Linked DNA regions of Homo sapiens: region 2 is reported to be linked to region 1. Evidence: microRNA targets listed by miRTarBase, many of them from high-throughput screens and not tested one by one. Region 1 holds a microRNA gene; the other region holds the end of a gene's coding sequence.

Region 1 (4,069 bases):
TGAGTAAACAACGAAAATTTGGGGAACACTCTGCTAGATGAAACTGATATTTGCAATAGAACTCGGTCTATAATTGCTGACCCCAAGCTATCTTTTAATGAATTGTTAAGGACAAACTCCTCCAGGAGGAGGTATAAGGCTAACTAGTAAAAAGTGATCACGAAATTGAGGGTTAAGAGACCTTTATTCAAGCACTGGACATGTCATTAGCTGGCTGTGAAATCTTGAGTGTGTAAACCTGATAAAATACAATTTCATGATTTCTAAAACTCCAAATGAATGATTTCTAAGGGTCCTTTTAACTTTAAAGTGCAGAGATTGGCTACTATGATCCACACTGATCTCTCCCTCATCTATACTCCTATTTTACATAATAGAGTTTAGCACTGATTTATTTTTAATTATTTCATAACTGCCAGTTTTGCCTTTCTATCAAGACTGTAGGATGGCTGAAGAGAGGAATCACCTCAAATCTTTTCTGTAACTTAAAGAATGGTTTATTTAATGCTGTCCAAGTAGTAACACTCAATAACTGTGGGATCACTTGGTAATTGGCCAGCTTTTAGCTTTCAGCAGAAATTTAATTTGTTTTCATAGAAAATAAAGTGGCAACCATATAAATTGTTTAAAACTTGGAGAATTGTTTTAGTTAACTCTCTATTTTGTGAGTAGTTTATTGTATAAGAATGCTATGGTTTGAATGTTTGTGTTGCCCCCAAAATTTGTATATTGAAATCCTAACCTCCAAGTTGATGGCATTAGGAGGGGAGGCCTTTGGGAGGTGATTAAGTCACGGGCACAGACACCTCAAGAATGGAATTAGTGCCACTATAAAAGAGGCCTGAAGGAGTTGCTTGCCCTCTCTATCACGTAAGGACAAAGTGAGAAGATATTATCTAGGAACCATGAAACAGGCCCTCATTGAACAATGAATCTGCTGGTGCCTTGTTCTTAGAAATCCCAGCCTCCAGAGTTGTGAGAAAAAAATTATATAAGCTATCCAATTTATGGTATTGTGTTTGGTTTAGTAGCAGCCTAAAAGTACTAAGTCAAAACACATGGTGATGTATTAAAACTGCTCTAAAATACATAAACTTAAGCTACTAACCAAAACCTAGCAAATTCATAAGAGAATTGATAAAGATGAATTTGGTAAACTTGTAATCTATAAAAAATTATCTAAATAACTAAAGTACTCTAGAACTATGCTCTACAATATAGTAGCCACTGATCACACGCTGCTATATAAATTTAAAAATTTAGTTCATTGGCCATTTTTCAAGTGCCTTGTGGCTAATGTCTGTCAAATTAGTGCAGATTGTAGGTCATTTCTGTCAACACAGAAAAATCTACCAGACAGCACTTCTTTAGAATGTCCAGGGAGAAGCTCTTTCATTGAGATAATTCAAAGAAAACCATGTTTATCCAATGCATTTTCCAAAAAAGGAAAAGCCTTGGCGAAGAATTTGGTTTATTCTTCTCAGAACCTAACAAAATGGGGAAATGTCCTTGATTAATTTTGTGTGTTTATAAATTAAGGTACCTTAAGTGGAACAAAGAAATACCATTTATAAATAGAAAATGTATTACAAATATGAAAGTCAATTAAGGAAATACAAAATAAATCTTTGGAAATGACTTTCATATTTTTCTCACAGCCTACCAAAATCCATGGCCAGGAGATATGTAATATATACTTGGCAGAACTTGCCTTTATAGCTTAATTTTCTGTGCCAAAGATACAGGCCTTCAGAATTCTTGTTGAGAAAATAAAAAGTAATTGTGAAATGGTTCCTCTGGCCTAAGGGATGACAACATACATCAACACCATTATACCCTCCCTACCCACCCACAAAAGTTTTTAAAGAGTATAGAACAAACAAACAAGCAAATACAACCTTAACCAACACCAGCTCAACAGATATAGTCTATAAATTAATTATCAGCAAAGGTACAAAGTATGCAATAAAGTACTTAACAATATACATTTTATTTACCTCAGTTTCTCTACTTCTCTACATCTTACCAGATGGGTTATTTGAAAGAACTCCAATCTCCTACACAAAAAAGCAGGACTCTGGCAGATTGCTAACTAGAGATTTTTGGCCCTATAGGCAAGCATCTGTGAGTGGGGCTGTGTGGGAAACAAAAATATGTTGGAAAAAGAGTTGATAGATGCCCCAGCATAAATGAGGACCCAGCAAAATCCATACTCCTGTCATGGCATCTCTGTCCATCCATTTCTGTTAGTTACCAAGGAACTAGCCCAGAGCAAGGGCAAATGGACCACAATAGCTGGAGAAGTGGGAGAAAAGGAGGTATACCTTGAAGGAGTAAACAGTTTTGGATTTGTACAATGTTTTAAAATCATTAACAGAGACATCAAATCATTAGCTGTCAACCTGGTTCAACTTACTTAGAATACGTGTTTTTTTTTTTTTAATCCCATTGGAACAGAAATGCAATATAATCATGAATTTCATCTCTTATTCTTTATGTCTATAATAAATTTTGTTTTTTCTCTGGAAGTCCTGCATAAACATAAATGGTATTCCCTCTAAATTGCAGTTATTCTCACAGCCTCTGAAACCAAGTATGGGTCGCCTTCCCGTTCTGCACCAGGTCTCACCCACGCTTGATTTCATGGGCCAGGAGAGCACATCTGGCAGATCTAACAGAGGTCTGAAGTCAGGACAGTTAGCTAGAAGGTGATAAAGGAGTAAAGCAAGAGAAGATACAATAAAATCTGTTGTATAAATAACATTTTATGTAAGAACCAGCAAATATAACTCAGGGGAAGACATTTTCAGTGCAATTTTCCATTCGGATTATCTGTACTGTATCCAAGATAATATGTAGCGACAGGTAAACATTCAACAATTCTTTCAAAATCTATTTTGTATATATTTCTTTACTGTCAATTTTCGATCATCTGGAAAATTCAACTATACAGTCTCACCCAGTGTACTTTACACCAATCGTTCTGGACTTAAATGTCTTTCTCCATCATCAAATTGTATTGACAAAGTATGCAGTTCAAGAAAGCCCTTCTAGTTTTTATGAGGTACCAAAAGGAAAATACATAAAATTACAATCTAAGATACCCTGACAACACAAAAATCCACAGAATTCTTTCTTGATACCTAAAACTTCGTATGACAAATTTGGTTTTATAAAATGTAGAGCTTTCAAAAAAAAAGCATACCATAACATTTTAAGAAATTCTAAAGTCTTGAGTAATTTGTTAATTTAGGATCTATAAATTTGTATCACAATTTTCCAACATTAAAAGAAAAATGAAAGCTAAGTAACAGACAAACCATGTTGGCATGATACTTTTAAATTTGCAAAATGCAATTATTGTCCATATAAGATTACCAAATAAAAACAAAATCAGAGTCATAGCATAGCAGAACTGAAAAATACCTCGAAATAAGCTCATAGCCTAATCCCAATAATTTAGAAATGGCAAAACAGGAGTTCTTGACCTTCATTTTAACCTGAGTTTGGAAATGCATCACTAGAGGTTGCAGGAATCAGTGACTTGCGTCAGCTCAATGTGACCAAGCTCTATGCCTCCACATATCCTCCAACAAAAATGAGAAGCTAAGGACATTTCATGACTGATCCTGAGAGTGGCCCAGAAACCTCTTTGCTCCATTGCCTCCCTGCACCTGTTCAGTTCCATTTCTACCTGGTTCCCTGCTCAGCTTCATCTCATTGCCATCAACCCTTGCATCAACACTTAAACTTGGTGTTGCCATTCTGTACCCTAGCTTTACTCTTCAGTGATCTTTTTTTCCTTCCTGAGACAGAAAGACTCATCTTGTCTGGGCCCCCCTATTTACCATAATCACCATGCCTCCCCCTCCCACCTACCTCACGAGCTCAGATCTTGGTGTCCACACGGAGCCTCTCTAGTATGCCAGCCTTGACAGACAGCACCATTGTTAACAATTTCCAGTTCTTTACAAGGTCATTGGATTTAACTCTTCAAAGCACTGTGCTTTAATTTCCGAGTGGCACTTTACCAACATTAACTTCTTTGTGGAAAGTTTTACATCAAGGT
Region 2 (4,066 bases), not on the chromosome of region 1:
TAAATGTACTGTATTTGAGATATGAGTAAAGTTGGTTCTAATAATAGTATGTGTTCATATTTATTAATAGACTCATTAACACTTTTAAGGCTACTTTGCAAGAGTCCCATTAATTTTATTTAATAAATGTCCCATAGGGACAAGAATTCAATACTTGAAACATTCACATTTGAGTTATTAATATTGCCATGTCACCTTAATATCAATTGAACTTATCAACTTATCTCGTAGTCCTCACTATGACTTATAGATGACAGACAAAATGAGTTTTGCTGACTTTAAAAAATAAAAGCAAGAAAAGCCTTACAATAAGATTCAAGTGAAACATTTATCATAATTATACATTTCTATTTCCACGAACAATGTATCACATGTGTCCTTCATATATGAAGATGACATTACTGACCTTTGTTATTAGGACATATTCTAAAGATTTTGTTCTAGAAGTAGCAATGGTTTTGTGCTGAATCTCCAAATTCTCTTTCCTCATTCCTCATCAACAGTACATGAAAAGAACAGAATTTCTGGGTTCTATAAGATTAACAGGCCCATTCTAAGATCAAATCCACAACCTTGGCTTCTAAACTGTTATGACAACTTTTCCAGACATATAAACGACCCATCTAAGCTACAGCTCCACTGATTTAAGAGTAAGGAGACTAAGGCTGTGGGACACATGCTCATTTGAACCAATTTTACCTTCCTTGTCATGAATTTCTCTCTTAACCCTGGCATCCAGCCCTCCTGCATGCAATTGTACAAAGAAGAAAACAGGAAAGAGTATGAGGATAGAAAAGTGCAAATCCATCACTATTAAGTAACAATAAAAAGTACACATGTGCTATGATTGACAGGGGAGTGGTGTCATCTGTGAAGGGCAGCACATTTTATATTCATCCAGAATATTCATCCAACCAAACCATTAAAATTAATCCAATTGATTTTGAGTGGGGCTATTTTGGTCATGCAGCAATTTACAAAATAGAAACCGCTGAGAGAGAAGCCAGCAAAATTAATTTATTTAGCCAGGAGGAAGAGGTCAGTTTAGTCAATGAATTATTCAGGGATCAAAAATCTACCCTTAGATAGACAGGTGCATTTCTCTCTGCACACACATGTGACTGAGGCATGGCTTTGTCCCTGAGAATTTTCATGCCTCAGGAATGATAGTCTGTCTTCTTAGAGGTGGAATGACAAAGTGAATGGAAGATGAAATTGTATCCCAGCGGATGAAATAGGACTTTGTTCTGCCTACAGACTGGTTGGTTGTTTGTTCTGACATGTTTAGCCAGAGATGAGAAGAATTCTACTGGGAAAATCCAGATTTAAACTACTTAAAGCAGCTCCCTAAACTACTATAAAATATTTTTTTTAAACTGCCAAGAAATCATTTTTTCATTTCAATGTGATATTTATATAGAAAATGATTTTTATCCAATGCTGAAGGTGTAGTGAACATAGAACAGTTGCAAGATTTGTTTTATTGAGCAACGTCTTTAAAGATACAAGAAACAGGCCATACACTACAATGCAATGTGACTGAAACAGTATGTTTAAGTTTCTTTTGCCACAAAAAGAAAAAAAAATAAATACAAGGAACACTGCCTTTTCATATATATTTGATTATGGCACATGCACATTTTTTATCACATCTTAACTTAAAATACTCAAATTTTCTTTTCAGCTTTTATCAGGGAACTGCAGTATGTATCTGCATTTTTAAAAAGTGCTTATTCCTGTGTAGTGAATACAAAGCACACAAAATGAAATTTTTTAAGCACAGAGGGTTACATTGAGAAGGCAGCCTTACTATTTAGGCACATTACAGTAATTAAGGTAACTGTACTGCAGAGATCACATTCTTCATTTTTTTTGTTTTTTCAGCAAATCAACAGGCATATGTTTCCATCCAGTAGCTGAAGAACCACTCCATCACAATGTCTTCTGTTTCACAGAATAGGAAACTAATGCAAAAGTTAAAAAAAAATTATTTTCTACATTGTATTATACAGCTACATATCATTTTAAAACTTTATTTAATACATTTACCTCTATATATCTTTATCTATATATTTACCATGCAAAGCACAAAGCAGACTTAACTATTATTTAACTTATAAGCCACTTTTTAAATTCCACAAAATGTTTACCTTAATTCTGGTGTTTCATTTTTAATACGTATTTATATTTTGCCTTTAAAACAGATATCATGAGAGTTGAAAGGGTGCACCATCAGAACTAATTATTTTAAAAACGAATTGCATTTGGGGACTGAATTAAGTACTTTATTCAAATTATTTTTGAATGACATTTGGTCACCCCTAGATTCACATTGAAGGCTGTTTATTATTAGAATATATGAGGAATTTATCTATAATAGTGTTTCACCTATTATATCCCTAAAATATATTTACAAAGACAGAAGCAGCAAAAAGGAAAGAGTATATATAACTTTGTTAGAGGAAGAAAAATCATTAAGCAAAGTGGGATAAATATAGCTGCAGTGTATGCTAGGAAAGACCCCTAATAAAATCTTCAGATTTATCTCCAATACAGGAAATGAGCTTCTGAAAAAGTATCTAAAATATAAAACTTACATACCTATTTTCCCACTAACATCCCCTATATTATTAATGAAGTATCCTTTGTTACAGGAAGGAGAAAAAAAAATTTATTTAACAAATATGACTATTTTATCCAGGTATAAAGTGCCCTAAATACCAATATTGCAAAAACATCCATTTATCATTTTTCACGTCTATGCCTTATGTGTGAAAACATTACTTAGAAGAGTCTCAAGAGATCTGTCATCATAAAAACTACCTTCTACTAAGTTTTTGACTTCTTTCTGAGTGAAAAGGAATGAAATTAATATTTACTATCTACTATGTGCTACAGACATTATTGCATTCAAACCAAAAAGATGAGTTTGAAACAGCCCCTCCCTCTGACACCATCAAAATTCTTTTAAAAGGAGGACATAACTGAATAGGAAAGAATTCTTAATCTGGGATCCATAAGTAGTATATTCATTCATTCATTCATTAGTTCATTCACTTATTCAACAAATTTTTACTGGGAAACTACCATAGGTCCAAGCACTATTCCAAGTACATGAAATACAGTAGTGAACAGATAGAAAACCCTACCCTCACAAAGGTTGTATTTTTAGTTCAGAGGAGAAAAATAATAAAGAAAACATCTGAAGTATTTTAAATAGTAAGTGCTTTGGATAACATAATGCACGCAAGGGGGAAAGGAGTGCTAGAGGCAGGAGAATTCTGATGTAAAGGGGTGATGAGGCAGGTCTGGCCCAGATGACATCTGAGTAGAGATTAACTGAGGGAATTGGCCTTGTGATCAAGGAAAAGAGCATTCCAAGTAGAGGGAACTCTACTTTTGTTTTTTACTCTTTATGTTGACAAAATATTACCTTTTATAATGGTGTTTCCTTTTTATAGTTGAAGCTAGGGTCAGAACCTTCAATCTGAAGCTTCAGAGCTTGTTTAAGGCTTAATTCTGTCTCTGAGGAAGGGTATCCCTCCAACACTTCCTGATGCCCTCTATCTTGCATTGTTCGTGGGACTGAAACCCTACCAAGAAAAACCTGGTTGCTCTGAAGATGATAATTTGGATTTGTCATTATTCCATTTCTCTTCTTCTGTTCCCCACTTTGTTGGTGAATAAGAAACTGCTGTTGAGATCGACCAATTTCCTGCTGAGCTGAAGGTATCATAATTTTGCATTGAGATTCTGCTGGCATTTGTTTAGGTGGTGCAGCAGTCCCGGATTTGGCTATAGGTCCTCTTCTATCAAACTGAGTCATTTCATATTCTAAAACCTTTGGCTGTGAAGAATTACTTTGTTTCGCTTTTTTCCCAGCTGATCCAGACTTGGCAGAATTTTCTGATTTCCCCCCTTTACTTGCTTTAGTTGACTTCAAACTGGGCTTTACTTGACTCCACTCAAATTCACTACTTGGTGAATTATGACTCTGTCCTAAGGACTGTGTTGTGGAAGATGGGGAAACAATTGACTGTCGACTTCTACTGCGTGGCAATGAATG

What was found. The annotated mature microRNA hsa-miR-551b-3p reads GCGACCCAUACUUGGUUUCAG and lies in region 1 at 2,584-2,604, opposite strand. An mRNA with a match to its seed (bases 2 to 7 or 8) in the 3' UTR can be bound and repressed. Matches are read on the target gene's strand: a 7mer-m8 pairs with bases 2 to 8, a 7mer-A1 pairs with bases 2 to 7 and ends in A, and an 8mer does both.
Region 2: the mRNA of ANKRD50 is a reported target of hsa-miR-551b-3p. Seed matches in the 3' UTR shown: 7mer-m8 at 616-622.

Annotation. Positions count from the first base shown.
Region 1 is chr3:168,550,449-168,554,517 of GRCh38, reverse strand. It overlaps MIR551B (microRNA 551b), which reads right to left and starts at 2,664; the gene lies at 2,569-2,664. It also overlaps the pseudogene EGFEM1P.
Region 2 is chr4:124,665,551-124,669,616 of GRCh38, forward strand. ANKRD50 (ankyrin repeat domain containing 50) reads right to left here. Exons shown (of 5, transcript NM_020337.3): 4 at 3,434-4,066; 5 at 1-1,964. The coding sequence ends at 3,437. Among named protein-coding and RNA genes, the nearest start is that of ANKRD50, 45 kb to the right of the region's middle.